Linked DNA regions of Homo sapiens. The protein of the gene in region 7 purifies or fractionates together with the protein of the main gene of each other region. This does not show direct contact. Each region holds a gene or a part of one and is shown on either strand. Other genes may lie near its edges. The genes, in order: SNX25, RNF121, RAB5B, POMK, GNPTAB, SPTLC2 and SLC6A13.

The links.
Region 1: the proteins of SLC6A13 (region 7) and SNX25 purify together in Homo sapiens (affinity purification with mass spectrometry; one large-scale study listed by BioGRID and IntAct). This does not show direct contact.
Region 2: the proteins of SLC6A13 (region 7) and RNF121 purify together in Homo sapiens (affinity purification with mass spectrometry; one large-scale study listed by BioGRID and IntAct). This does not show direct contact.
Region 3: the proteins of SLC6A13 (region 7) and RAB5B purify together in Homo sapiens (affinity purification with mass spectrometry; one large-scale study listed by BioGRID and IntAct). This does not show direct contact.
Region 4: the proteins of SLC6A13 (region 7) and POMK purify together in Homo sapiens (affinity purification with mass spectrometry; one large-scale study listed by BioGRID and IntAct). This does not show direct contact.
Region 5: the proteins of SLC6A13 (region 7) and GNPTAB purify together in Homo sapiens (affinity purification with mass spectrometry; one large-scale study listed by BioGRID and IntAct). This does not show direct contact.
Region 6: the proteins of SLC6A13 (region 7) and SPTLC2 purify together in Homo sapiens (affinity purification with mass spectrometry; one large-scale study listed by BioGRID and IntAct). This does not show direct contact.

The regions. Positions count from the first base shown.
Region 1 is NC_000004.12:185,208,306-185,212,660, forward strand, and holds the start of SNX25 (sorting nexin-25), read left to right. Parts: upstream 1-1,292; 5' UTR 1,293-1,521; coding exon 1,522-1,950; intron 1,951-4,355. UniProt on the Homo sapiens protein: May be involved in several stages of intracellular trafficking.
Region 2 is NC_000011.10:71,927,472-71,931,911, forward strand, and holds the start of RNF121 (E3 ubiquitin ligase RNF121), read left to right. Parts: upstream 1-1,574; 5' UTR 1,575-1,590; coding exon 1,591-1,653; intron 1,654-4,440. UniProt on the Homo sapiens protein: E3 ubiquitin ligase which accepts ubiquitin and transfers it to substrates thereby promoting their degradation by the endoplasmic reticulum-associated degradation (ERAD) pathway which is a pathway involved in ubiquitin-dependent degradation of misfolded endoplasmic reticulum proteins.
Region 3 is NC_000012.12:55,972,636-55,977,173, reverse strand, and holds the start of RAB5B (ras-related protein Rab-5B), read right to left. Parts: upstream 3,097-4,538; 5' UTR 3,035-3,096; exon of another isoform or gene 2,883-3,034; coding exon of another isoform or gene 2,835-2,882; intron 1-2,834. UniProt on the Homo sapiens protein: The small GTPases Rab are key regulators of intracellular membrane trafficking, from the formation of transport vesicles to their fusion with membranes.
Region 4 is NC_000008.11:43,103,223-43,107,054, forward strand, and holds part of POMK (protein O-mannose kinase), read left to right. Parts: intron 1-305; 5' UTR 306-326; coding exon 327-608; intron 609-3,832. UniProt on the Homo sapiens protein: Protein O-mannose kinase that specifically mediates phosphorylation at the 6-position of an O-mannose of the trisaccharide (N-acetylgalactosamine (GalNAc)-beta-1,3-N-acetylglucosamine (GlcNAc)-beta-1,4-mannose) to generate phosphorylated O-mannosyl trisaccharide (N-acetylgalactosamine-beta-1,3-N-acetylglucosamine-beta-1,4-(phosphate-6-)mannose).
Region 5 is NC_000012.12:101,764,916-101,768,747, reverse strand, and holds part of GNPTAB (N-acetylglucosamine-1-phosphotransferase subunits alpha/beta precursor), read left to right. Parts: intron 1-587; coding exon 588-711; intron 712-2,453; coding exon 2,454-2,657; intron 2,658-3,443; coding exon 3,444-3,832. UniProt on the Homo sapiens protein: Catalyzes the formation of mannose 6-phosphate (M6P) markers on high mannose type oligosaccharides in the Golgi apparatus.
Region 6 is NC_000014.9:77,518,910-77,522,741, reverse strand, and holds part of SPTLC2 (serine palmitoyltransferase 2), read left to right. Parts: intron 1-1,160; coding exon 1,161-1,296; intron 1,297-3,832. UniProt on the Homo sapiens protein: Component of the serine palmitoyltransferase multisubunit enzyme (SPT) that catalyzes the initial and rate-limiting step in sphingolipid biosynthesis by condensing L-serine and activated acyl-CoA (most commonly palmitoyl-CoA) to form long-chain bases.
Region 7 is NC_000012.12:242,027-245,858, reverse strand, and holds part of SLC6A13 (sodium- and chloride-dependent GABA transporter 2), read left to right. Parts: intron 1-2,045; coding exon 2,046-2,180; intron 2,181-3,104; coding exon 3,105-3,245; intron 3,246-3,832. UniProt on the Homo sapiens protein: Mediates sodium- and chloride-dependent transport of gamma-aminobutyric acid (GABA). Mediates transport of beta-alanine. Can also mediate transport of taurine and hypotaurine.

The DNA.
Region 1 (4,355 bases), on a different chromosome or scaffold from region 7:
GTGCCCGCCCCTATTTTCTTAAAAAAGGAGGAGAAAGGAAACTGGTAACTTATTTTGATCATCCCCTTGGCATGGCAAAGTCACATCTAGCATGAGGCACTCTTCATTTCTGACTTAGAAGGTTTAAGAAAGAATGAAATGAGGCCGGGCGCGGTGGCTTACACCTATAATCCCAGCACTTTGGGAGGCTGAGGCAGGCGGATCACGAGGTCAGGAGATTGAGACCATCCTGGCTAATATGGTGAAACCCCGTCTCTACTAAAAATACAAAAATTTGCTAGGTGTGGTGGTGCGTGCCTGTAATCCCAGCTACTCGGGAGGCTGAGCCAGGAGAATGGCTTGAACCCAGGAAGCAGAGATTGCAGTGAGCCGAGATCGCCCCACTGCACTCCAGCCTGGGCAACAGAGACTCCGTCTCAAAAAAAAAGAAAAAAAGAAAGAAAGAAAGAATGAAATGCCCATGAATACCAATTGATACTAAAAGCAAAAGCTACATCTGCTTCTTTATTAGTCTTAGCAGTAATTGCCAGTGTTTAAGTAGCATATTGGCATCTACTTAGCAAGCGTTATCTGTATATTACTGGCTGGGACTATGACAGAAGAAAAGGCAAATATATACTCTAAAAATTATTTGGACCACGTTCCTTTGCGTGGCTGATAGCATTTGAACTGAATAGTTGGTAAAAAACAAAAAACAAAACAAAACAAAACAAAAACCAGAAGTGGAGCCAAAGTGATTATGGGCAGCTGCGTGCACCCTGTTGCACCAGGCCGACTTCTTTGGACCTTTCCATAGCTAGGAATTGCAGGCTTCACTTACTCCACCGCACGTGTCTGATTCCTTCCCTAAGGCGGCAGGGTGGGAAAGGGAAGGTCGTTAGAAACTGTGACAGGGAGTCTCGGGAACGGTTGCCTATTTAAATAGCGAGTGAAAACCAGGCAGAAATGTTTGCCGGCTGTAAGCAAAGCGAAGAGGTTACTCGTCAGTGATGAGCGGAGAGGGAGAATTACGGGATCACCTGAGCTCAGGAATTACCAGCGCCGCTGACACCTGCAGCAAAATTTTCCATGAACAGACGGCATCCTGTAGAGGAGGAGGGGAGCGTGGGAAAGAGAGGTGTGCACCGCGCTGGGTCGCGCCCTCTCCCCGTGGGGCCCCGGCCCGGACCCCGCCCCCGCGCTGTGGGTGGGCGCCTCCCGGCTGTCACTCAGCGGCCGCGGTGGCTCCGGGCCCCGCCCGACACGCACTTCAGGGCGGCCCCGCCCCGCCCGCGTCAGGCTGGCCAGGCTTCAGTCACAACACGGTGGGGCTCCCTGGCTGCGCCCGGCCCGGCAGCTACGGGCCCAGCGCCTGGTGGCGGCGCTGAGGGGTCGCCGAGAGGGGCCCGGCGGCGTCTGCGGGGGCCGCTCCCTCGGTGGGCCGCGGGCGAGGCATGAGCGCGGGCTCCCCCTGCCTCCGGAGCGCCGGCGGGGGACCGGGGGGCAGGAGATGTGCCTGTCCTTAGCGGCCCAGGAAGCAGCATGCACCCCGATGCGACCGACAGTGGCGGCGCCGGCCCCAGCCCCGCGCGGGCCGCAGGCGCCGGCGGCCGTCCTGTCTCGGGCTTCAGGGGCGAGCGGCGGCCGGAGTCCCCGGGGGACGCGGAGGCAGCAGCAGCGGCGGCGCCGGGGGCCCCGGGCGGCCGGAGCTGGTGGAAGCCCGTGGCGGTGGCCGCACTCGCCGCCGTGGCCCTCTCCTTCCTGGGGCCCGGCAGCGGGGAGGCGGCGGGGGCCGCGGGGCTGAGCTCCGTCCTGTTCAGGCTCAGCCTGTACCTGAGCTGCGCGGCGGCCGCCTTCCTGCTGGGGATCCTGTTTGCCCTCGTCTGCCGGAGCCCGCGCGCCCAGCCGCCCGACTTCGCCGCCGCCTGGAGCCGGCTGGCCGCGACCTCAGCCGCCCGCCGCCCGCCGGGGGTAAGTACCCGACTCCTGGCCGCCCAGCTCCGCCGGCCCTCCCCGCTTCCGGTGCCAGCTCCCGCGCCCCGAGCTCCGGGGGGCCGCGGCATGCCCTTGTCGAAGCGGGAAGCCGGGAGCCAGGGGGCTGGGCTGCGGGCCCGGCCGTGGACGCGAGCGTTCCCCGGCGCCCGCGCGCGGCGGGCTCCGGGCTCCGGGCTCCGCGCTCCGCGGTGCTGGAGGAGATGCGCGTTATTTACTGGGCTCTGTAGTCACTCGACAACCATCCTCAGTCACAACCCTAAGGGTGTCCCCAGACCTTCGGTGTCGCTTGCCGTGGGAGGGGAAGAAGGGAATCACAGCGTTCGCTACGTGCAGGCTCTGCGCACGGTCCTGGCGATCCGCTTGGTTCTTCTGGCCGTTCTCGGTGGGAGGCAACTTTATGACCGTTTGCCGATGAGGAAACTTGCTTCGGTCCCTGGCCCAGCGCCTCACCCCCAAGCCCGCGTACCCTTCCCACCACCCTATCCTGCCTTCCACCATGCGGATACGTATTATAGTTGTGCAGTCCCCGCTGGCTTCTGTGATTTGGAAGGGGGATGCCAGAAATCACTGGTTTGCAACAAAAGGAAAGCCATCCTCAGCGCGCTGTGGGACACTAGGGCGGGGGTTAGGGAATGTAGGAAAGAACAGTGTTTTAAATGAGCGCTTCTCTTCTTCAGTGCCAAACCCACTGCCCCATCTTTCTTCCACATTCCTTCTCATAATCCTTTAAAGGGAACTTTATTCTATCCCAGCTTAACACTCACTGCTTGACTGAGTGATACCATCATTCTAATGAAATTGCCCAAGCGCTTTGGGGTAAGATAAATGGCAGTGGCTCAACTTCATAAGAATATTTGTTAATGATCATTTGTCCCCAGGGTTTGTATTTGCTTATCACATGACCTGCTCACTCCTTTATTTTAAAAGAAAGCACCACACTTCACCAAACTACTCTGAGTGTGTTAGTTCAGAATGCAGCGCTGAGATAATGGCGGAAGGCATTAGTAGGTAACAGACATTTCGCTCAGTAGGCTGATAAACAAGGCAGTATATTAAGGAGCAGGCAACTCCTGTTTTTAGAAGTGGTCTCAAAAATTAGTAAAGTTGGTTTCTCTTACAAAATCTCCACTTAGCCATCCGTTTTTCATATCTCATTTAGCAGGAGTTGCGGAGCAGATATGTCTCTCCTCTTTTTTTCTACCATGGCAAGTAAGGACCCTGAGATTTTACTAGTTTGTTTGTTGATCAATAAAATATGTCTTAGTTCTTGAGTACTGTAAGATGTTATAATTCATTCGGTAAATATTTATTGAGCATCTTGTGTGAGCCAGGTACTGTTTTGGAAGCTGAGTTTGAATCAACAGGACACATAAATATCCTGCTCTCTGGAGATCTTATGGGGGAGCAGGCAATAAATAAATACTGTGGGATAGTGATAAATGCTTTTGAAACAGTGATTAAGAGGTAAGAGATGAAGAGGGACTAGTAGGTGAGGGAAGGAAGTTTAGAGGGTTAGGTCAAGATCAAAGTCCTGGTATTGCAGACCATCTCCCAGGGCATTGAAAGCCTCCTGTTGTGGGTTAGCACTCTGTTTCCTGGAAAATGCATTCCCGCAAATCTCCCAGCTCACTGGCACCTCTGGGTAGGTAAAACGTGGATTATCATCTAGAAAGATTGTTTAGTAGAGGAGTTGGAGAAAATAGTATTTTAAAGGTGACAGAGAAAATGAAGCAGCATGTATAAATCTCTCATGAATACTACCCGAAGATTTCAGGTAATAGAAGAGGGGAAGTATAATCTAAGGAAAATGAATATTGGTAATTATTTTTGTCCTTGAATTCCTAAAATAGCCTTAAATAAGAAATTAAGTGCATTAGGGGCTGGGCACAGGTTTCACCATGTTGCCTAGGCTGGTCTTGAACTCCTGAGCTCAAATGATCCGCCCTCCTCAGCCTCGGAAAGTGTTAGGATTACAGGCGTGAGCCACTGTGCCTGGCCTAACCCTGCCTCTTAAAAAAAAAAAAATTTTTTTTTAAATTTTTTAAGTGCATTAGGAAATTACATTCTAAGTTATATATTGCTTAGAACTGAAATACATGTCATTCACATAAAATTCTATTTTCTTTGTAGTACTGGTACTGTTTACTCAAGCCTCTAGTGCTGTATTTCCAATAATTTGTGTGATGTGTGTGTGTGTGTGTGTGTGTGTGTGTTTTTTTTTTTTTTTGCTTTGAGACAGGGTCTGCTCTGTCGTGCAAGCCACCACGCCTGGCTAAGTTTTTGTAGAGACAGGGTCCTCAAGTGATCCTCCTGCCTCAGCCTCCCAAAGGGCTAGAATTATCGGCGTGAGCCACCGTGCCTGGCTGTGTGTGCTTTTTAAA
Region 2 (4,440 bases), on a different chromosome or scaffold from region 7:
GATTGAACCAGTGCATTCCAGCCTTGGTAACACAGCGAGACACCGTTTCAAAGAAAAAAAAAAAGCACTCAGATTAAAAAACAAAATGAAACACAATACAATACTATATAGTCATGGCTACATATAATTATTAAAAATGGACTGGGAGAACACAAGCTAATTCTAATTCATAATAGTTGCTTCTGGAGAGGATGAGAGGGTAATAGGCTTGAGAGTAGAAAAAACAGGTAAGTTTAACTTTTATTGTATTATCTAGCTTTTAAAAAATAAGCAAATAAATCATAATGCCAGTAGTCAATTTAGGGTGATGGGTGTACAGTATTTACAATATTCTCCGTATTAAGTGTCACAAAATAAAAATGATTATTTTTAAGTAAATGGGATGCCTGTGGATGATGTAGATAATTCCCTGTAATTTTCTGTTGGTCCCAATGTAAAGCTGACTTTTCTAGACGTTCTGTGGGCTCACAGGCCATCCTAGTTCCATTCACCAGACAGATCCAGGCGGACGCCCAGAGGCGTGTGAGCTGGGGCTACAGGCTTGCAAGGTATCGAGTTCACCGGCTGCTGAAAAATCAGTTATGAAGGTATACGTAGGGGTGGGACAGTGAATGGTGTATAAAAAGGAGGGTAAGGCAGAAGCTGGGGCCGCAGGATGTGGGTTAGAAAAGTGTGCCGAGGTGTGTGAACTGGCATGACAGCCTAAGTAAGACGCGGAATGTGGGTGCCCTGGAGGTCCCGCAAGGCTCTTCAGCTCTCAGTTTCGGGAGCTCAAGCCGCACCGCTGCTTTCACAGCTCATCGGGAACAGGCTGCTCAGTTCATTTCCTTGATGGCCACCCTCCTCCCTCTCGGCCACTCCCCTCCCCATCAACAAATCCCAACGCCCCTCACCCGGGACCGTGGACCTCGAGGAGCCACCGTTGCCTCGGATCTCGGACCACCAAACCTATTCTCCCGCCAATTCGGCCTTCTGACCTTCGCCTTCTGACCCCGAGAGCTACTCTTCCGTCTTCCGTAGCACAGGAATGCGTTCTGGGGCTTCAAGAAGCTGCTGTTTTTGAAAATGAGTCCTACCGAGGCAAGATGGCAGGTGCTGCAGCCAGGAAAATACATTTCCGTGTGTTTTAATATTTATTTTCACTCACTACAACTCTTTCGTGGAGGGAGCGGAATTTAAACTTCCGGGTCAGCCTCAGTGCAGCTTGGGAAACGTAGTTCCTAGTCCCCACGTCTCGCTCCTTGGAGCCCAGACTGAGGGAGCGTCGCGAAAGTTGCCCGTTTTGGAACGCTCCCATTTGGCTCTCCAAAGGGAAGAATTGGTTAAATAGTTGCACTGAAAATAATGCGATTCAAATTTCTCATTTTCCAAGAACGCTCCCTTGCTGAAGCTTGCAAGGGCACGGTACTCCCCTCTCCTTGACCCTGAAACGTGCAGCAAGTAGATAACCTCCTGATCCCTGACAGTCTCCGCCTGTGTTGATGCCCCGCCCCCTCTGCTGGAGTCCGAGCCGCCGATTGGCTAGGAGCACTTGAGCAGCGGAAGCAGCTGGCTCGCGCGGGGACTGCGGTGAGGGGGCGAGCCGTGAAGATGGCGGCAGTGGTGGAGGTGGAGGTTGGAGGTGGTGCTGCTGGGGAACGGGAGCTGGATGAGGTAAGCGGAGTTGAGAGACGAGGAGAGACTCAACCTGAGACTGAGGGGAGGGGCAGTGAGGTATCGGGAGGTGGGGGTCTTAGGAGAGAAGGGAAAGATCCTGAGAGGGAAGGAGCTGACTAGGGGGCGGGTGCGTGGAGAGCGAAGTCAGAGGCACTCCTGACTTGGGGACTCCGAGGCGGCCTTGGGAGTAGAAGACTTGCATTAGCCTCAAGGGTGAAGATGGAGGACAGAGAGAGAGGTCGGAGGGGTGGGGGTGTTAAGATTTTGTGATTACTAGCTGGGTGTCTTAGGGTAGGACCGAAGGGCTAAGAGGTAGTTTGAGTTGGAGGGACGTGAATTTCTTCAGGGGAAGGCTGGGCTTCTACTGTGGGAGAGGACTCTGTCTAAGCCTAGGGTGGGGGTTGGGGACACAGACCGGGAAAGAGTGCTAATCCACTAGTAGTATAGCTTTGAGTTATCTTAAAGTTGGAACTGTTTTATTTATCGTTCCATTCTAAGACTTTGTATCTAATGCATGCTCAGTAAAGTTTTGGCCAACGAATGAAGGAACAAGTGGATGAATAAATGATTGTATGCCGGAATTCATGCATTTATTCACTTAATAAACATTATGACTTTTGCTCCGGGTTCTGGGCCAGGTGCTAGGGAGACAAGGGGCCCCTCCGTTGAAGAGCCCACAGTCTAGTGGTGGGAGACAGACAAGAAGACTAGTCATTGCATTAGAGATATAATGGTGGCACTGAGAAGTGTGCAACATTTCAGCTTGGGATAGGGAAGGCTTCCCGGAGTTGCTGAGTTTTAAACGATAAATAAGTGTCTCTCTCTTCTTCTGGATTTATGAGTTCCTTGAAGGTGAGCTCCTTGAGATTGTATGTTCCCTTTACCTATCTAATAGGCATTTAAAGACTGGTGTATTAAAATACCAGTGGTCCTTGAAGGAATCACTAGGAGGAAGGAGATGTTGAGTGTGAAAGGAATGAAGGGACAGGGCAGAGAAGCAGAGACAGAGGTGAAAAGATTCTGAAGCCATGGAGACATTGATAGCTAGTGGTGTTTGTGATCTTGCACATGCCAGCATATGGGCAAAGACATCACAGGAATAGGAGGAAGGGGATTGGTTGTCAGAGATAGAACCAGTGAGATCTCTGAGGGGTCAGAATCTTAGAGGCCCCTTGCTGTGTGTTGGGTGTGGGAAGAGTGGGGAGGATTGGGGATGATTGAAGATGAGGTTCAGAGAAAGGGAGAAGTGGACTTGGGAAGCAATAAGACTGTTGCCTGGTAGTGGGATGAGTTGGAGGAGTTGGATTACCTGATTGGGATCATTAAGGTGGGAGGAAGGGACTGAGAAATTGACAGGTGATCACAGCAGGGGGATTTTTAAAGAAGTGTTGTAGTCTTCTACCTCCCAATCACTAGAGACTACAGGTGTTTGGATACCAGTTGGTTGGTTAGGTGGAGTGGTTGTGGAAATGACCTCCAAGACCCCTTCTAGCTTTTACATTTCTGTGATTACAGTTGGCTGTGGTTCAGTGAGATATATTTGAAGACACTTTGGAAAGGGTAAATACTGTATTGAAGTTCTTATTTAAGGTTTGTTAGTCATGGGCTCTCCCTTGAGACAATTACGTATATCTCAAAGCTGTAGTTACATATGTCAGGGTTCATTGAGATAAACAGCAGAAGTTTTGGCAGAGGAGAAAATAACATTTTCTTTTTTTATTTGAGATGGAGTTTCGCTCTTATTGCCCAGGCTGGAGTGCAGTATTGCAATCTCAGCTCACCACAACCTCTGCCTTCTGGGTTCAAACAATTCTCCTGCCTCAGCCTCCTGAGTAGCTGGGATTACAGGCATGCACCACCACGCCCGGCTGATTTTTTGTATTTTTAGTAGAGACAGGGTTTTTCCATGTTGGTCAGGCTGGCCTCGAACTCCTGACCTCAGGTGAGCCGCCGATCTTGTCCTCCCAAATGTGCTGGGATTACAGGTGTGAGTCACCGCGCCCGGCTAAGAAAATAACATTTTCATTAAGACATGTTTGATTTTTGTTTCTTAGCTTTTCTTTATTGCTTGAAGGACTTGAGAGCGTCTAGTAGTATAATAGACTTTACAGAGTATCATGCATAGGAGTTAACTTTATATGAAACCACTAGCATTCATTCCAGGAACCTTGTTACTTGTTTCATTTCCTGAGAAAAGGTATAATCTGTTGTCTGGAAATTCCGTGTGGACTGGTTCTATCTTTTTTGTTGTTGTATGTTTGAGAAAGTAAGCTCTGAGAAGCAGAACAGTCATCCCTTCAAGCTCCAAAAATAACAGAGGTCTGGTCTGGCAGACCTTAGTTGGTATTCAGGTTTCTACTAATGTCTCCCCAGCTGTTTCTTTGCAGCCTTAGCTTGTGAAACAGCAGGTGAAATCCGTCTTTAATATGTAATTATGGGGTCTACTGTGTGTTATGCACTGATAATTCAAAGATGAGTAAGACAGGATCTTTACCAATTTACAGTCGAGTGAAGAGACATGCAAATAGCGTATTATAATACTAGATAATTGCTGTAATGGAGGCATGTAACAAATGCAGTGGGGCACAAGAGATCAAGCACTTGAGTCAGCTAGGGGGAGTCAGTAAAGTCTTTATGATAGAGATGGGTTTGAGCTGAAAAAGGTTGGGTTTACAAAAGAGCAGTGGTTTACATGTGGCATTAATATTGCCCCCTGTGTAGCACTTTCTGTTTTATTGATAGACTCTAATGTGGAGCCGAGATTATAATTGGGTAATGGGTAGC
Region 3 (4,538 bases), about 56 Mb from region 7:
GTCAAATCCCGTCTCTACTAATAATACAAAAATTAGCTGGTCGTGGTGGTGCACGCCTGTAATCCCAGCTACTCTGGAGGCTGAGGCAGGAGAATCGCGTGAACCTAGGAGGCAGACGTTGCAGTGAGCCGAGATCATGCCACTGCACTCCAGCCTGGGTGACAAAAGTGAAACTCCGTCTAAAAACACACACACATACTCCTACACAACTGTCTCTAGGACTGGCTTGCAGGTGAGAAAAGTTCCTTGGGGGAAAAAACCGAGGTTTCCAATGGGCGCTGTACAAAGGCTGGGTACAACAGAGGGCTTTTAAAGCTAGTAAGGACAAATTCAATTAATAAGGTGGTAGTATGAAATGCCCCAGCTGTACTCTGACTCTGAGATTTAGAGGAAAACCGATTTCAAATCCAGATAAGCTTGGAGCTTCTCAGATCCCTACAGAAAGACACACACTGTACTCCAGCCTAAGTGACAAAGCAAGACCCTGTCTCTAAAAATAGAAGAAAAGAAAAGAAAGACAAATACAGGGGCCTCTTAGGAGAACCATCATCATCATGGATAAGAAAGGGATAGTCAAGTAATGTGAACATGCAGAGACCATGAACATCCAGAGACCATGAATTTGAGATAAGGGTCTGAAATTCCTTTCTTTAGCAGAGATGCCAACAATTATCCCAACCAAAATGATCCTTTCTCCCCATAAAGTTTTGTTCCATCTCTTTGGGCACTTCCTAGGACACCCAGCACACAACTTGGGGTGTGTGTGTTTGTGTGTACTCAAGGTGAATAACACACAGTACAGCCCTCTGCTTGTCGGACTTGGTAGAAGACAAAATGAACTGTGAAAGGAACACAATAAATAACAGAGTATCATCCCAGAAGGGAAAACTGTAGAAAGAATAAGACTAGAGTTTGATGAGAACATGAAAACACAATTGCCTTTTGTGACACATCCCCCAAAGCAAAGCAAGATTAGTCTGATTTGCTGTCTCTGATCCTTGACCTTCCTAAATGAAATATGAATAAGGTATGTGTGGGAGGATTTATACTTCTTAAACTGCTGTACACCTTCCATATTTTAAAATATGTACATATTAACTTTTGTAATTAAGAAATGTAGTGATGGCCGGGTGTGGTGGCTCACGCCTGTAATCCCAGCACTTTGGGAGGCCGAGGTGGGCGGATCATGAGGTCAAGAGATTGAGACCATCCTGGCCAACATGGTAAAACCCTGTCTCTACTAAAAATACAAAAATTAGCTGGGCGTGGTGGCGCACGCCTGTAGTCCCAGCTACTTGGGAGGCTGAGGCAGGAGAATCTCTTGAACCTGGGAGGTGGAGGTTGCAGTGAGACTCCGTCTCAAAAAAAAAAAAAAAAAAAAAAGAAATGTAGTGATAAAATATATTGGTAGAGACGCAGAAAAGGAGGAAGTACAGTAAGGGAAAATCCAATAGGCTCCAATCTATGAGGGACTAAGAAGGCTAGCAGACCATTAAAAATATGTGGGGAGGAGGGTACTCCACTCCTCTGCTTTGGCAATCTTTGTCTTTTTTTTTTTTGGAGACAGGGTCTCATTCTGTTGCCCAGGCTGGAGTGCAGTGGGAAGATCATGGCTCACTGCACCCTCGAACTCCCGGGCTCAAGTGATCCTCCTGTCTCAGCCTCCCAAAGTGCTGGGATTACAGGCGTGGGCTACTGCACCTCTGTATCTTTTTCTCTACTCACCATCTTCCCCAGATACTTCATAGTTTGACCCAACTTTCTAACAGCACAGAAATCTGGGCTTTTGAAGTAGACAAAGAACAAGGGGTGATGCCAAGCTTTTGAAATGGAATTTCTCACTCTTCCCCAAATCTCTTCCTCAGTGATATCACCGCATAGTTTCGGACCTGTTAACTCCATTACCTGCCTGGGAAATACCCAAGTCAAGTCTAAGTCCCACAAAAGTTTCACCAACTATGATCAGAAGATCTCCTGATGGCTGAGGATCTCTAAGCCCCTTTCCCATGTAGATAATGAAATAGATATGAAATAGATTCTCAGTTCTAGGAGACATGGTATTTGCTATAGACCACATTATTAAGTGGGAAAGAAGTGGACAAAACATGCCCCCAATCCAACTTCTTAGCTCTTTCATAGGACATGAAACAGTAAGTTAAGAAACAGACTGCAGTATAGACCAGCTATGAGGCCAACAGAAAGTGTAGGGGCTGAGTTTGGAGCAGCCAACAGTCATGGAAAAAAAAAAATTACTTTGATCTTCATCCCTACCCTGGGAGTTTTAAAAAGCTTCAAATTACCACATCTAAACACTAAAGGGAACAAAAGAGTGTGTACTCCCAAGACCCAGAGCCCCCAGCCCACCCTTCAGCATTCCCAGAAGTTCCCATAACTGATACCAGGCCCTGCTTCCATTACTTCAACTACCTTAGTCTTCTAGATTAATACAGCCTTCTTCATTTTCCCCAGTTCTCCCTCACTGAACCCAAATCTCTCTCAGCTCAACACCATAGCACCCTCAGTTCTTTTTACAATAGGCACTTTCCCTGAAAAGAACGCTTCTTACCCAACTAAGAACCCTTCTCAGGCCCTTCCAATGAACCTCTCTGCAGGGACCCAGCCCCAGTCACCCCCGGGGCTCGGGCGACAGGTCTGACCCTCCTCACCTCCCGGCAAATGGGCTTACCTCACCCGCTGCCCTGTTCCTTTCCCCAGCTCCTCCCTCTTCAGCGCTGCTTAATGAGGCCTGCCCCTGCCCTCACTCAAGCTCCAGGCCTCCAGCCCCCGGCCCTCGGCCTGGCCGCCGCCACAGCCCAGCCGCCTTCCCGACTCACCAACTTCGGGGTCCCAGGCCGCCCAGTCCCCTCCTCAGCGACCCCCATTAGGCCTGCCGGGGCCCGGCCCCCTTCTCCCCTCTCCGGTGGGCCACTCTAACCCCTCGCTTAGGACCAGACCCGCCTCCGCTCTCAGGCCAGGCTGCTCTCATCTCCCGGGCGCTTCCGCCCCTGCCCTTTGGGCTCCATCAGCTCGGTACCTGGGGCTCCGTCTCCCCCGTCGGCCCCAAGCCTGTGTCGAACAGACAAACAGCTGCAGCTCAACCAAACCCTCCTGCCCCTCCTTCTCCTCCTCGCCCTGGGGCGGGGCTCCAGCCAATAGCTCGATTACCCGCCTACCTTCGAGGGTGGGCTATATGTGCACTCATCCACCAATCCTCTGGAGAAAGGCGAGTCTCTTTGGGCGCTGTCACCAACAAGTACGAGCAAGGGACGCGACAGGCGGGGCCACAAGCCAATAGCGAGGGAGAAACCTCGAAGATGGACGAGGTAAGGAGCCATTAAAGAGCAAGCTCCTGAAGACAGGGGGCGGTACACTGCCGACAGGCGTATGTATCCACCAATAAAATCTCGACACCCCATGACCCCGCCTTTTGACTCATAAACATCTAATCAGGTGAGTGATGGAGGCGGGTCAAAGTGAAACTTTAACCAGTACTGCGAAAATACGGTACTTGACTGGCAGGCAAGGAGGGGTTGAAGGAAGCCTTAGGAAGGCCGCTACTGACCTTCGCCCCTCCCCCTGGACTTGGCTGGGGCTGGCTCTAGTGCCCTGCCTTCTATGACAAATTCGCGGGCGTAAAGGGAAATACCTCTTCTAGGGATCCGGAGCCTGGGAATTTAAGTAACCCTGACATCAGCGCTTCCTCCTTTTAGTGAGGCTTCAGTGGACAGGCGTATTTGGGGTGGCCGCGGGCGGTCTGAGATGTTTTTTGGTGGAATGAGACAATGGCAACTACAAGAAGTGGTAGCTTGGAGACGCTTTTTCAGAATCGTATGTAAATGTAAATAAAAGAATCTTTGGAAAACTTTTCTGTCTGTGATATGAAACAGAAAGGAAAAACGGCGGGCTTACTGGGAAATGCAGTGTCGAAAGGCAAATTCCCCGGGAGCCCTCTTCCTGCCGCTATGTATGTGCATGGGTGTGTGTATGTATGGGGTGTGTGTGCATATATGGTGTGTATGTGGTGTGTGTGTATTTGGTATATGTATACGTGGTGTGTGTGGTATATGTGTGTATATGATGTGTGTGTGGTGTGTGTATGTGATGTGTGTGTGGTGTGGTGTGTGTGTGGTATGTTGGCTGGGGGAAAGGAGGTTTGCTGGTGTGTGGAGAAAGTGAAGTAGGAAGTATATAGGCTTCAGTTTCCCCAGCCATAAATAGGGATGATAATAACCACTTTGTTCACCGTCAGCACTAGCCAAAATGGGGTGGGGTGGGCAGCCATGCACAGAGAGATTAGGAAAAGGGGTCTGAAATCAATGATCACATACACACATTCATATTCTGTCTCCCACCATTCTTTCAGTAAATAAGAGGAGGAAAGAGATGAACTATAAAACTAGGCACATTTTTTTAATGAGCTACAAACTAAATTACAAATAACGTTAATAGCAAGAGCACTCAAGGACAAGGGTGACAGAGACAAATCATAAAAAAAAAATGCTTTTTTTTTTTAGCACTGTCATTACAAAACCCCAAGG
Region 4 (3,832 bases), on a different chromosome or scaffold from region 7:
TGAATATTCATGAGCATCTATTTAATGCATGCTACTGTGAGTCGGACAGAGTCAGACACAAACACCTCCCACCTAACCTAATCTAGAGGAACCCGCATTTTAGTTTGTAATAAAAAGTAATGATTATGGAAACAGCTAACATTGGGCATTTGGGATAAGCCTGGTGTTCGATACCTGCTTTAATCCCCACGGTAACGCTGCAGCTTACAGGACCCTTGAGTAGAAGAGGCATCAGAACACATTTTTGGAAATGAAAGGAAGTGAAAGCTGACTGTCATGACTTCTTGTTTCATTGTGTATTTTAGGAAATTGCAGAGGCCGTCAACATGGAAAAGCAGCCCCAGAACAGCAGGAGAGGCCTCGCCCCCCGAGAGGTGCCGCCAGCTGTTGGGCTGCTGCTGATCATGGCCCTGATGAATACTCTGCTCTACCTCTGCCTCGACCACTTCTTCATCGCTCCTCGACAATCCACTGTGGACCCCACACACTGTCCCTATGGTCACTTCAGGATAGGACAGATGAAAAACTGCTCACCTTGGCTGTCCTGCGAGGAGCTGAGAACAGAAGTGAGACAGCTGAAGCGTGTTGGGGAAGGAGCTGTAAAGAGAGTGAGTCCGGGTTCATTTGCGATTGCTGTCATCCTGTTATTTCGCTTAACACAGTGTCCTCCAGCTCCATCCATGCTGGCACGGATTACGGAATTTCATCCTTTGTTACTGCCAAAGTGTACTCCATTGCATATGTGCACCACATTTGCTTTGGTTGATTCTGTATCTTGGCAATTGTGAATAGTGCTGCAGTAGGCATAGGTTTCAGCCCTTAGGGAAGCAGTGTGGCATCCAGTGTTAGGAGCCCTGCTAGCTCTACGTTTTTATTGTTGAGCTCAATAATCTTACATCTGGCACTTTATCTTTTTTTTTTTGAGAGTCTCGCTCTGTCACCCAGGCTGGAGTGCAATGGCGCCATCTCGGTGCACTGCAATCTCCACCTCCTGGGTTCAAGTGATTCTCGTGACTCAGCCTCCCGAGTAGCTGGGACTATGGGCATATGCCACCACGCCTGGCTAATTTTTTAATTTTAGTAGAGATGGGGTTTCACCATGTTGGCCAGGCTGGTCTTGAACTCCTGACCTTAAGTGATCTACCTGCCTCGGCCTCCCAATCGGACTTTATCTTAATAAGTAATCCAAGGCAGGAAAAAAGTCAAATGCATAAAAGAGTGCCATAGTGATAGAAAACTAGAAACAAAACTTTTAGAATAGTTCATTAAATGATGGTCCATCCACTTGACGGAATATTCTGCAACTGTTGTGTAGTTAGGAACCCCAAGAGGCAACATGAATAAAACCTTATGATGATAAGTGAAGAAAACAAGATATAAAATTGTATAATTGACTTTTCAACTGTGAAATTACGTGTATATGTAGATAAATACAAAAATGGTCAGGCGCAGTGTCTTATACATGTAATCCCAGCACTTTGGGAGGCGGAGGTGGGCGGATTACTTAAGCACAGGAGTTCCAGACCAACCTGGGCAACATGGCAAAACCCAGTTTCTACAAAAATACAAAAATTAGCCTGGCATAATGGTGCGCACTACTTGGGAAGCTCAGGTGGGAGAATCTCTTGAGCCTGGGGAGTTTGAGGCTACAGTAAGCCATGATCTTGCCACTGCATTCCAGACTGGGTGACAGAGCAAGATGCTGTCTCCAAAGGAAAAAAAAAATATGAAAATGATAGAAATTGTGCTAGGGTGAAAGGGGGATTATGGGCAATTTCTTTTCCTGTTTTTCAAACTCTGTGATGGTATTATACTGATTTTTAACAATTTATTTTTAATTGGCATGTAATAATTATCCATATTTATGGGGTACACAGTGATGTTTCCATACCTACTTACAGTGTGTAGTTAGCGGATCAGGGCATATCTGCCATCTCAAACATGTATCACTTCTTTTGGTTGGGAACATTCAATATCTTCTCTTCTGGCTATTTGAGAGTGTATAATATATTGTTAATTATAGTCATCCTATGGTGCTATGAAACACTGGAACTTGCTTCTCTTATCTAGCTGTAATTTTGTATCCTTTAACAAATCTCTGCCTATCCTCGCCTTTGCTCTACCCTTCCCAGCCTCTAGAAAACTGTTAGGCTTTTTACTTCTTTGAGTAAGCTTTTTTAAACTTCTGCATATGAATGAGAACTTGTAGTGTTTAACTTTCTGTTCCTAGTTTATTTCACGTAACATAATGTCCTCCAGTTCCTTTCATGTTGCCATAAATGACAGATTTCCTTCTTTTTTATAGCTGAATAGTATTCTATTTTGTGTATATATACCACATTTTCTTTATCCATTCATCTGCTGAAGGACACTTAGGTTGATTCCATATCTTGGCTATTGTGAATAGTGCTGCAATAAACATCGGGATGCACATATCTCTTTTTTTGTTGTTGTTTTTTGAGACGGAGTTTCCCTCTTGTTGCCCAGGCTGGAGTGCAATGATGCAGTCTCGACTCACTACCACCTCCACTTCTGGGTTCAAGCAATTCTCCTGCCTCAGCCTCCTGAGTAGCTGGAGTTACAGGCATGTGCCACCATGCCCGGCTAATTTTATATTTTTAGTAGAGATGGGGTTTCTCCATGTTGGCCAGGCTGGTCTTGAACTCCTGACCTTGTGATCCACCCACCTTGGCCTCCCAAAGTGCTGGGATTACAGGCGTGAGCCACTTAGCCTGGCTGTGCATATCTCTTTGATATATTGATTTCCTTTCCTTTGGATATATACCCAGTAGTGGAATTGCTGGATCATATGTTAGTTCTGTTTGTAATTTTCTGCGGAACCTCCATACTGTTTTCCATAATGGCTGTACTAATTTACATTCTCACTAACAGAGTATAAGCGTTCCCATTTCTCTGCATCTTCACCAGCATTTGTTATTTTTTGTCTTTTTGATAATGGCCATCCTAACTGGGGTGAGATGGTATCTCATTGTGATTTTGGTTTGCATTTTCCTGATGATTAGTAACATTGAGCATTTTTTCACAAATTTATTGGCCATTTGTATGTCTTCTTTCGAGAATGTCAGTTTAGATCATTTGCCCATTTTTTGATCATATTGTTATTTTTTTCTGTTGAGATGTTTGAGTTCCTTGGATATTGATCCCTTGTTAGATGAATAGCTTGCAAATATTTTCTCCCATTATGTAGTTTGTCTCTTAACTCTATTTGTTTCCTTTGCTGGGAAGAAGGTTTTTGGTTTGTTATAATCCCATTGGTTTACTTTTGCTTTTTTTTTTTTTTTTTTTTGACTGAGTCTTGCTCTATCGCCCAGGCTGGAGTGCTGTGACATGATCTTGGCTCACCGCAACCTCCACCTCCCAGGTTCAAGAGATTCTCGTGCCTCAGCCTCCTGAGTAGCTGGGATTACAGGCGCCCACCACCATGCCTGTATTTTTAGTAAAAATGGGGTTTCTCCATGTTGGCCAGGCTGGTCTTGAACTCTTGACCTCAGGTGATCCGCCCTCCTCGACCTCCCAAAATGCTGGGATTACAGGCATGAGCCACTGGGCCCAGCCCTCAGTTATAATTTTGCAAAGGCGGTTTCAATCCCTCCCTTTGGGGTTTTGTAGCATCTTATTCTTAAGGTGTGGGCTATGAAGATGGAAAAAGGCCATTGATCACTCTAGCTTCTTCATGCTGACAGGGGGCATAGTTGGGGTCGGAGTTGACCCTAAGGTGAGAGGAGTAGAACTGCTTTGCAGCTGTCTGAGTATATTCATGCAGGCCGGGCTGTGGTTCCAAGGCTTTCGTGACAAAGGCAGTAGTATCTTT
Region 5 (3,832 bases), about 100 Mb from region 7:
AGGAGTGTATTTTTTTTCAATGATTTTAAATTTGAAAAACCATGTACCCCATCACTAATTCTGAGAGCAGGTGAATGCACAGCTCAGAATGCTATGCCAGTTAATTTATCACAGGGCCTTAAGCTTGAAGAGAGAGGATATTGTCTCTCAGCCTTGAGACAAGATTATGCACAAATACACTAATGAGCTACTGATAGTTACAGAAAAGCAGTGACTGTGCATACTTCCCACCAGCTTTGACATGCTTTGGTACTTGCAGTCAAGTCTGGCATGGTGCTACTTTATTTCATAGTAGATTATCAAAGCATGTTATGAGAGACTAATCCATGAGTTGAATCCTTGTCTGCTTTCCTTGAGTAATGGAAAAAAAGTAAATACGCTCAGTAAGAACGGTCAACGCAGCAGGATCTAAACAATGACTGTAGGTACAGGCAAACTTAAAGCACTTGTGAGTGTGAACGCTGAGCCCTTTGAAAATTTTAATCTTTCTAGAGACTTAATTTCTTTTTATAAAGGGAATCTTAACTCAAGAATAAAATGTATCAGAAGCCAGAAGTCATTTTATTTTCTCTTTGGTTTTATCGTAGGTTTATTTGACATGGCCTGTGCCAAACTGTGCCGAGGGCTGCCCAGGTTCCTGGATTAAGGATGGCTATTGTGACAAGGCTTGTAATAATTCAGCCTGCGATTGGGATGGTGGGGATTGCTCTGGTAAGGATGTGTTAAACTGTAATTCGTTCATTTTTATGGAATATTTTCTTCTTAATCATTATTGAACATGTGCTATAGACTTAACCAAACATTCTTTATGTATTAATAAAGAATCAGTAATGCTGGGCATGGTGGCTCATGCTTATAATCCAGTGCTTTGCAAAGCTGAGCTGGGAGGAGTGCTTGAGGCCAGGAGTTCAAGACCAGCTTGGGCAACATAGTAAGACCCCATCTCTATCAAAAAAAATTAGCCAAGTGTGGTGGTGCAAACCTGTAGTCCTAGCTACTTGGGAGGCTAAGGCAAGAGGATCATTTGAGCCTAGGAGTTAGAGGCTGCTGTGAGCTGTGATTGCACCATTGTACTCTAACCTGGGCGGCAGAGTGACAGCCTCTCTCAAAACAAACAAATCAGTAATCAATGGACTCTTTGGAGGTGGTAATTAGTGCCCTCATGTGGCCCAGTTTATTCATTGTTGAGGGCATTGAACAAGAGAAAATACACTTGAAAATGTCTTCTTATTTAAAATATGAAAATCTGGAATACACTTATATAAATCCAAGAGCAAGAATCACTCTAACTGGTTCTTATAGGAGCTCACTGCTGGTAGCTTTCAGCAGCAGATTGTGATAGGTCACAGAATTACTAAAGAGTTGCAAAAGAAATAAGTATTTTCTCTCCTCAGCAGCTCTTCCCTCTCCCTCACATAGTTATATTTTGACTTGTTGATAATAGCAATTTGTTACATTTACTTACTACCTTTCAATTTATAAAGCATTAAATTTATAGAGCATTATTCATTATATTCACTTGAATTGTGTTTGTTACCTGAGAGAGAGAGAGAGTAAGTATGTACACAAATGTTATCATCCCCATTTCCATATGAAGAAATGGATTTGGAAATGTTTGAATATTGGAGAAAACAAAGCTTCAAGTTGTATTTCAGTCAGATATGTCAGATGCGCTTTAGCTGAGGAGAGAGAATACAGATGTGCAAAGTAGATCTGTGTAGACCAGAGAAGTCAGTCTCTACTGGAACATTAGCATTTGATAACAAGGGGTATCAAACATGTTACCCACGTTTGGACATGTTTTTGGCAGTTCTGATAGTCACAGTCTTTGGAATAATCTCTTCTTGTTTTCGTGCTCCTCCATTTCTGTCAGCACGTGCCCCTTGAGCAAATGTAAGCCCTGTACTTGTAGGTTGCACAGCTACAAAATGCCAGGGCCTGTTCATCACGCTTCTGTCAAGTGACTCCCTTTTACGTTTATTTTCTTCTTAAGGTATATGAGATCTTCTACTAAAGAATGAGGTGAACCTTTTCTGACTAAAACTTACACATCAACCTTGAAAACATCAATATGAAATAAGGAACTGTCTTTTTCGTTTTTTGTTTTTTGAGACGGAGTTTCACTCTTGTTGCCCAGGCTGGAGTGCAGTGGTGTAATCTTGGCTCAGTGCAACCTCCGCCTCCCGGGTTCAAGCAATTCTCCTGCCTCAGCCTCCCAAGTAGTTGGGATTACAGGCGCCCACCACCACGCCCAGCTAATTTTTGTGTTTTTAGCAGAGATGGGGTTTTACCATGTTGGCCAGGCTGGTCTCAAACTCCTGACCTCAGGTGATCCAGCCTCCTCTGCCTCCCAAAGTGTTGAGATTACAGGCGTCAGCCACCACACCCAGTCCAGAACTGTCTTTCAAAATTGTAATTACAGCAAGAATCCCTCTTCTTCCTCCGATCTACAGGAAACAGTGGAGGGAGTCGCTATATTGCAGGAGGTGGAGGTACTGGGAGTATTGGAGTTGGACAGCCCTGGCAGTTTGGTGGAGGAATAAACAGTGTCTCTTACTGTAATCAGGGATGTGCGAATTCCTGGCTCGCTGATAAGTTCTGTGACCAAGCATGCAATGTCTTGTCCTGTGGGTTTGATGCTGGCGACTGTGGGCAAGGTATGTTTACTGCCAAACAAATAAGAATGGGAGCATAAAACATCCTTGACAGGTAGAGAGAGTTTTGAATGGCTTTTGTTATTTAAAATAATGATTCTCTGTGTATCCCTTTACCAGCCTTGCATTCAAACTAGTTATGAAAGTAAGAGAACAACATAAATCACTGAAGAGGATCTTTTCCTGTTATTGTTGCAGTCTGGTGTTTTGTTTTGTTTTGTTTTGTTTGGACCAAGCAGATTTACCTTAGCTGAAAATATGTGGTGAAGTTTTAATTTGGAAACAAAAAAGGATATCAATAATTCATTAAATAAAGATGGTTCAAACACTGGATTTTGTTGATAGCGTATTAATGGAGTTTGTTTTGGCAGAAAGTTTTTTTCAAATGGATAAAAAGATGGAAATTGATTATTGTAATTTATTGTTAAGAACCATGCCATATCTCTATAGTGAGTCAGGATCACTATTTCATGGTAATTATTGTGACTGCCTCAGATAGTGAAATAAGCCCTATACCAGTAACTGTTGTATTAGGATATCTGATTATTTTGAAATTAAAGTCACTCTTAGAAAGTGAAAACTCAGTGCCTACTTCAGCAGCACATATACTAAAATTAGAACAGTTTAGGCATTAGCATGGCCCCTGCACAAGGACGACATGCAAATTCATGATGCATTCCCTATTATTTTTTTTAAAAGAAAGTGAAAACTCAGACTCAAAGAATTAAAGGAAAACAGAGGAAAAATGCCCAGTTAAAAAAAAAATCATGTTTCTGTTTTTTCCTCTAGATCATTTTCATGAATTGTATAAAGTGATCCTTCTCCCAAACCAGACTCACTATATTATTCCAAAAGGTGAATGCCTGCCTTATTTCAGCTTTGCAGAAGTAGCCAAAAGAGGAGTTGAAGGTGCCTATAGTGACAATCCAATAATTCGACATGCTTCTATTGCCAACAAGTGGAAAACCATCCACCTCATAATGCACAGTGGAATGAATGCCACCACAATACATTTTAATCTCACGTTTCAAAATACAAACGATGAAGAGTTCAAAATGCAGATAACAGTGGAGGTGGACACAAGGGAGGGACCAAAACTGAATTCTACAGCCCAGAAGGGTTACGAAAATTTAGTTAGTCCCATAACACTTCTTCCAGAGGCGGAAATCCTTTTTGAG
Region 6 (3,832 bases), on a different chromosome or scaffold from region 7:
GAGAAGATTCTAAAACAGTTCTTAGCCCTTTCCAAGCAGATCTTTTAAATTTATTGCTTTGCTCTGTATAACAGAACAGTTGTTTGGATATCTTTTCAAAGATTGACTTACCATAATGTCAAAACCTGCCCAAATATTTAGTCAGTTGGCAATTGCAGACAGAAACGTGTGTTTTAATCTATTTGTGTTTTAGGGAAGATGAGCAAAATAGGATTAAAGATACGATTTTATACTATTACAGATATGTTACTGTTGTCTGGTAAGAATTTTAAGGAAACAGGCTAGGCGCGGTGGCTCATGTCTGTAATCCCAGCACTTTGGGAGGCCAAGGTGGGTAGATCACTTGAGGTTAGGTGTTCGAGACCAGCCTGGCCAACATGGCGAAACCCTGTCTCTACTAAAAATACAAAAGTTAGCTGGGCGTGGTGATGTGCACCCGTAACCCCAGCTATCAGGAAGCTGAGACAGGAGAATCGCTTGAACCCGGGAAGCAGAGATTGCAGTGAGCCAAGATCGTGCCGTTGCACTCCAGCCTGGGCGACAGAGTGAGACACCGTCTCAAAAAAAAAAGAAAGAAAAAGAAAAAAAGAATTGTAAGGAAACAACAAAATGAAACTCAGAAGATGAAAATTTGGGGGTCTAAAGGCTTCATCTCTGGTCTTATGTGTAAAATTTATTTGCAGCACAGTTAATTAGAATGAATCTTAAAGTTAGAAGATGTAAATTCTAGTTGCAGCTATGCCACTTGCTACTTGTAATGTGCCACACACTATTGTGCAACTGTAGGCATGTCACTACCTTGGTGAGAGTCTCCCCACCTATAATATGAAGATAATCATAAATATCCTGCCTACTGTCAAGGGATTTGTGGAGTGCTCAGTGAGGGGGTATGGCTGAAATTCTTTGAGGATGCTAACGCTCCATTAAACGTTTTTTACATTATTATAACTTCTGCTGTTAACAGGTAGAATGACAGAATACAAAATGAGACATTTTACATTTATATTCCATATGGTTTACTCTGTAAAATATTTTATGGTGAAATGGAAAAAAACGAAACAGAACTGATTAGATAGAATGGAGATAGAGGAGATTTACTGTCTTTTTTCCATTCCTTTTTACTTAGGATTATTTTGTTTTCTCTCACCGTGACTTTCCAGGTAAAGAGTGTGTACAACAGTTAGCTGAAAACACCAGGTATTTCAGGAGACGCCTGAAAGAGATGGGCTTCATCATCTATGGAAATGAAGACTCTCCAGTAGTGCCTTTGATGCTCTACATGCCTGCCAAAATTGGGTACGTTTTGTTGCAGATCACAGACCAGTCTGTCCTTATCCTTATCTGTGATGTGAGACCAGGGCTTATGTATTTTGTTAGGGAAAATGGTCTTGTCCTTACTGTGTTAACCTTCATTTGGTACATATGCCATAGATCAAATAGTGGATTCCAAATTGTAAAGTATGTTAATTTGTTCTTCTTTCATTAAACATTTGAGTTTCATGTACTCTCTAGGGGCCTGGGATAGATCAGTGAATAAAATACAAACATCTCTGTCCTTGTGGAGCTTACAGTCTAGTAGGGGGCAACAGTCAGACAGACATAATAAACAAATGAACTGTGTACGATGTTAGAAGGTGTCAAGTGCTATGGAAAAAAATAGAGCAGGACCTATATGGGGAGTTGAGAGTGCCCTGTGGGCGGGCCGATAACACTATTAAATAGGGTGGTCAGGGTAAGGAAGCCTCCTTGGGAAGGAAAATGACATCTGAGCAAAGATTTGAAGGAGCTGACAGCCACTGGAGAAAGAAGCATCTGTGCAAAGGCCACAGTACAGAAGCGAGCTTGCTTAGCTGACGGAAGAGTAGCAAAGAGGTCCCTGGAATTGGAGCACCGTGCCCCAGGGCGAGCAGTGGGCCATGAGGTCAGAGAGGTTTTATCAGAGTGTGTTATTGGATACTTACCAGGTGTGCAGATTACACCAGCTTCTTTGGTTTGTATGAGGCATACATAATGGAAAGCCCTGCCCTAGGATAGCTTTCAATGTATTTGAGAAGTCCAGATGTATAATGAAACCAGAAGACATTTGAAAAGCAAATGAACAGTAATTATACTGAACAAATTTTATTATATGCAAAGTGGCCCTGAAGATGTAGAATAAAGGAGTGACCTGCTTAGTATAGGCTCAGTAAGAAAGGCACATCTTGTTGGATGGGTGAGTTTTGAGCTGGATCTTAAAGCATTTCTCCAGTTTGATTGAACTCATTGAAGGAGCAATTTTTGTAAATTTTTGAATCCCCAGTGTCCACCACAGTCTCCGACACTCAGTAAATGTTTACTGAAATGAATATGGGAGAGGAAATTAAATCAGGGAACCTGGAAGTAATGTGATTCAAAGAGAATGAAAGGGAAGTAAGGAAAAGGTGCTCCCTGAGAGAAAAAGAAGAATTTGGGTTTCAACATGAAGTCATATGGGCAGTTGGTATTATGGCTTCAGAGGGGATGGGGAAGGATTTTCTTCATTCTTCTTTAAGTGGAATTCTCATAAACAAACATGAAGAGTTATCAGATCCAAAGGACTCAGTCTAGAGCTCTCTTTAAAGAAGGCTGTGTCTCCTTTATTCTACATAGGTGCAACTGACTGTGTACACTTTAATTAGGAAAGATTTAGAGAAGGTACAGGACCCAAAAGGGCACAAAAAAGCAATAACTACTAAATATAAGGAAAACAACTCTGTATACAGCATGTATAAAGAAAAGCAAGGTATATTTGGGGAGATAAAAGTTGTAAAGGCATTAAGATGTGTGTTTGTTGAGAAAAAATAAATTTGTGCATTTAAGAAGTTAAAAAAAAAAGATTTAGAGAAGGTAAAGAATTAGAATAAGGCACTAGACAGTTTGGGAGCATGTGCTGAAGATACAGGGCACCCAGGTTCATGCTGACACAAAGGAGGTATGTTGAGGAAGATGTACTGGTACTACAGAGAGTGGGAAAAGGCTGTGAAAAGACTGGCATTAATGTAATGCCAAATGTGCAGGATCTGTATAGCCCAGGCTGGAGTGCAATGGCGTGATCTCGGCTTACTGCAACCTCCACCTCCCAGGTTCAAGCAAATCTTGTGCTTCCGCCTCCCCAGTAGCTGGGATTACAGATGTGTGCCACCACACCTGGCTAATTTTTGTATTTTTTAGTGGAGATGGGGTCTAACCATGTTGGCCAGGCTGGTCTCCAACTCCTGACCTCAGGTGATCTGCCCGCCTCGGCCTCCCAAAGTGCTGGGATTACAGGCACGAGCCACTGGCCCGGCCACATTTTTTTATTCTCAAACAAATGCTGTAAACAGCTTAAAGGAAAAGTTGAAACATAAGGGAGGTCAATAAGAGGAAAAGACAAAAAGCAACATAATTTGGGCCAGGCACAGTGGCTCACACCTGTAATCCCACTTTGGGAGGCCGAGGTGGGTGGATCACAAGGTCAGGAGATCGAGACCATCCTGGCCAACATGGTGAAACCCCGTCTCTACTAAAAATACGAAAATCATCTGGGTGTGGTGGTGCACACCTGTAATCCCAGCTGCTCGGGAGGCTGAGGCAGGAGAATTGCTAGAATCTGGGAGGTGGAGGTTATGGTGAGCCAAGATCGTGCCACTGCACTGCAGCCTGGCGACAAAGCGAGAGACTCAAAAAAAAACCCACATAATTTAGTAGACAAAATTAACTAAAAGTTAGAATGTGTTATTTAGACAAGATACAGATGTGGAGTAAGGCCACAGGGCCTCCAATTTGGCTTACGATAGGGGTGGGGGATTGTTAAATACGAATTGTGTGGTCTGAG
Region 7 (3,832 bases):
GGCTTGAGCCACCGCGCCCAGCTAATTTTTGTATTTTTACTAGAGATGGGGTTTCACCATGTTGGCCAGGATGGTCTCGATCTCTTGACCTCGTGATCTGCCTGCCTTGGCCTCCCAGAGTGCTGGGATTACAGGCGTAATCCACCACACCCTGCCTTTTCTTTCTTTCTTTTTTTTTTGCGACAGAGTCCCACTCTGTTGCCCAGGCTGGAGTGCAGTGGCACGATCTCGGCTCACTGCAACCTCTGCCTCCCAGGTTCAAGCAATTCTCCTGCCTCAGCCTCCCAAGTAGCTGGAGCTACAGGTGCGTGCCACCATGCCAGGCTAATTTTTGTATTTTTAGTAGAGACAGGATTTCACTATATTGGCCAGGCTGGTCTTGAACTCCTGACTTGGTGATCTGTCCACCTCAGCCTCCCGAAGTGCTGGGATTACAGACGTGAGCCACTGCACCCGGCCAATTTCGTATTTCTGTAAATATTCTTTAGCTCTGTTCTGGGATCAGTGAAGTTACTTGCTCTTTTTATATCTTGCTTTTAAGATTGGTTAGGTAGCAATAGAAGTGTGCTCGGTCTAGGGATAATTATTCCCCGTTACTGAGGAAATGCCCTTCTGCGTACTCTGCCTAATGCCTGGTGAATCTTGAGATTATTTACTCTGGCAGTGTGTGAGCACCATTACTTTTAATCATTTTGAATGGTTCTTTCCCTCACCTCAGTTTTCTCACACATATGCACTGACTAGTACTCAGTTGGAAGCTTGAGGGGGACCCTCTGCAGATTCTCCTGTCTGTGCAGTTCTGTCTTCTCTGGTACTCTGTGTCCTATGAACTGTGCTGTCCACTTTGCCAGCAGATGACAGGTCCATGGTAGGGAAAATACCAGTATATCTGGCATCAGTAGTCTTGTCTCCGCCAATGCTTATAAAAACAGAAGGAGACAGATTACTAGCTTAGTTCATTTTGTGTTGCTACAACAGAACACCTGAGATGGGTAATTTATAAGGAACAGATATTTATTTATTATAGTTTTGGAGGTTGGGAAGTCCAGGGCAAGCAGTCCACCTCTGGTGAGGGCCTTCTTCTTTGTGTCAGCCCATGGCAGAAGGCAGAAAGGCAAGAGAATATTCATATAAAAGACAGAGAGCCAAATACACTTTTTTTTTTTGGACAGGGTCTTGCTCTGTCACCCAGGTTGGAGGGAGGGCAGTGGCACAATCACAGCTCACTGCAGCCTCGAACTCCCAGGTTTAATCAATCCTCCCACCTCAGCCTCCCGAGTAGCTAGGATTACAGGCACACACAGCCATGCCCAGATAATTTTTTGTATTTCTTTTAGAGACAGAGTTTTCCCATGTTGCCCAGGCTGGTCTTGAAGTCCTGGGCTCAAGCGATCCTCCCACCTCAGCCTCCCAAAGTGCTGGGATTACAGGCGTGAGCCACTGTGCCTGGCCCAAACTCACTTTTATAACAAACACAGTCTCACAGTAATAACATTAATCCATTCATGAGGGCAGAGCCCTCATGACTTACATCTTATTAGGCTCCACGTCCCAACACTGTTGCATAGGGAATTAAGTTTCCAACCACGAACTTTAGGGGATACATTCAAACCATAACAATGACTGAAAGGGCATCTGATTTCAGCTTACTAAAAGACTACCTGACGTTAAGAGCAATGCTTTCTTTGAAAAGAATTATAGACTGTGGGCTGTGCCAATGCTCCTAGACATCCATTATTTAATAAGCTCCTTGTTATTGCCACAAGTTATGTGTTAAGCAGTAATTGTTCAGTGGGGAACAAACTTTAATAGGTATAGACTGAAACTGCAGTGAAAAAAGGCAAGAGGCTGTGTAGATCTTAGATAATGGGGTGACTCTTGATCTCTGCTATGTTCCAAACATCTAGACAGCTGTCTCCTGCAGTTTTGCATGTTCTCTGCCTCCGAGATTCTGACTGGCAGTATGGGTTGGTAATGGGAGGAGGTGAATGCAGACCATGAGGAGAATAGTCCCAGGAAATGAACAGCCTGTTTTCTAACCACAGGTGCCTTCTTCATCCCCTACCTCGTCTTCCTCTTTACCTGTGGCATTCCTGTCTTCCTTCTGGAGACAGCACTAGGCCAGTACACTAGCCAGGGAGGCGTCACAGCCTGGAGGAAGATCTGCCCCATCTTTGAGGGTGAGTAGCTCTGTACCTGACTCCAAAGCGTCTTCATTCGTGGTTATAAACCTTGTTTGGAATGACTTGAGTGATTAGTAGCAGTTCTGAGGTTAAGATAAGATCCCGAGTCTCTATGCTAAACCCTTGGTTTGTGGGCTGCATACTGAGCTAGTCAGCTGATCTATCAGAGAATGGGCAAGAAACAGCAGTGAGGATGGGGCAGAGGCTTTAGGTTAGGTAAGTAGAGTGCAAAGCCACTTTAGCCATATGTTTTAAACACATAACAATGTTGTTGTATTTTAAGACATATTTAAATCAATTATAAACATTTTAAAAGAGAACTTTAAATGAGAAAAAATTATTTCATTCATAGTTCTATCTTGGCCGGGCGTGGTGGCCCATGCCTGTAATCCCAGCACTTTGGGAGGCCGAGGCAGGTGGATCACCTGAGGTCAGGAGTTCGAGACCAGCCTGGCCAACATGGTGAAACTAAAATACAAAATACAAAAAATACAAAAAATTAGCCAGGCATGGTGGTGGGCACCGGTAATCCTAGCTACTCAGGAGGCTGAGGCAGGAGAATCTCTTGAACCTGGGAGGCAGAGGTTGCAGCGAGCCGAGATTGCACCACTGCACTCCAGCCTGGGTGACAAGAGCAAAACTCCATCTCAAAAAAAAAAAAAAGTTCTATCTTGACACAAGTATTTAAAATTTACAGTATTTAATTTCATTATTTCTCCATATATAGGATTTTCTTTACGTTTTTATTTTGAAATAATTATAGATCCACAGGGAGTTACAAAAATAGCAGTTTCCCTCAATGGTAAATTGAACTCCCAGCCTCAGACAATCCTCTCACCTCAGCGTCCCGCATAGCTGAAATGACAGGTGCACGCCACCGCTGTCCACCGTTCCTAGCCCAATTCTGCAGTTTCCCCGCAGGCATTGGCTATGCCTCCCAGATGATCGTCATCCTCCTCAACGTCTACTACATCATTGTGTTGGCCTGGGCCCTGTTCTACCTCTTCAGCAGCTTCACCATCGACCTGCCCTGGGGCGGCTGCTACCATGAGTGGAACACAGGTATGGTCCTCACCCAAGGGTCCACTTCCTCCTCTCGTTCTGCCACATTAACCGGAATTGGGCTTGTCACTATATCCCCGCTTAACACGGACACACCAGAAATCACCCAAGTCGACCATGGAGAGCTTATGTCAAGAATAAGATCAAGAATTCACCAGCGTCACAGGCAAATGTCAGGAACTTTTTAAAGAAAAAATTAACATATTCAATGAGAACTGACCACTTTTATGTTGTTTAGCCATTTGCTTAAATCAATTTGAAATATGGTTAGTTTGATATATGGATATATGTTTTGTTCATTCATTTGTTTCGCGTATCTTCTCTCTGGTACGTTTTAGGTCTTTCAAACTTGCAATTCATCTGGACTTGCTTGTCAGGGGTGGCAGAGGCGGGAGAAAATCCACGTATAAGTGGACCCGCACAGTTCAGATCCATGTTGCTCAAGGGTCCACTGTGGTTTATAATAGCAGTTACAGTCACGTGTCGCTTAATGACAAGGGTACACTCTGAGAAACGCGTTGTTGGCAATTTCGTCCTTGGATGAACACAGCACAGAGTGCACACCCACATGGCCCAGCCCATCGCAC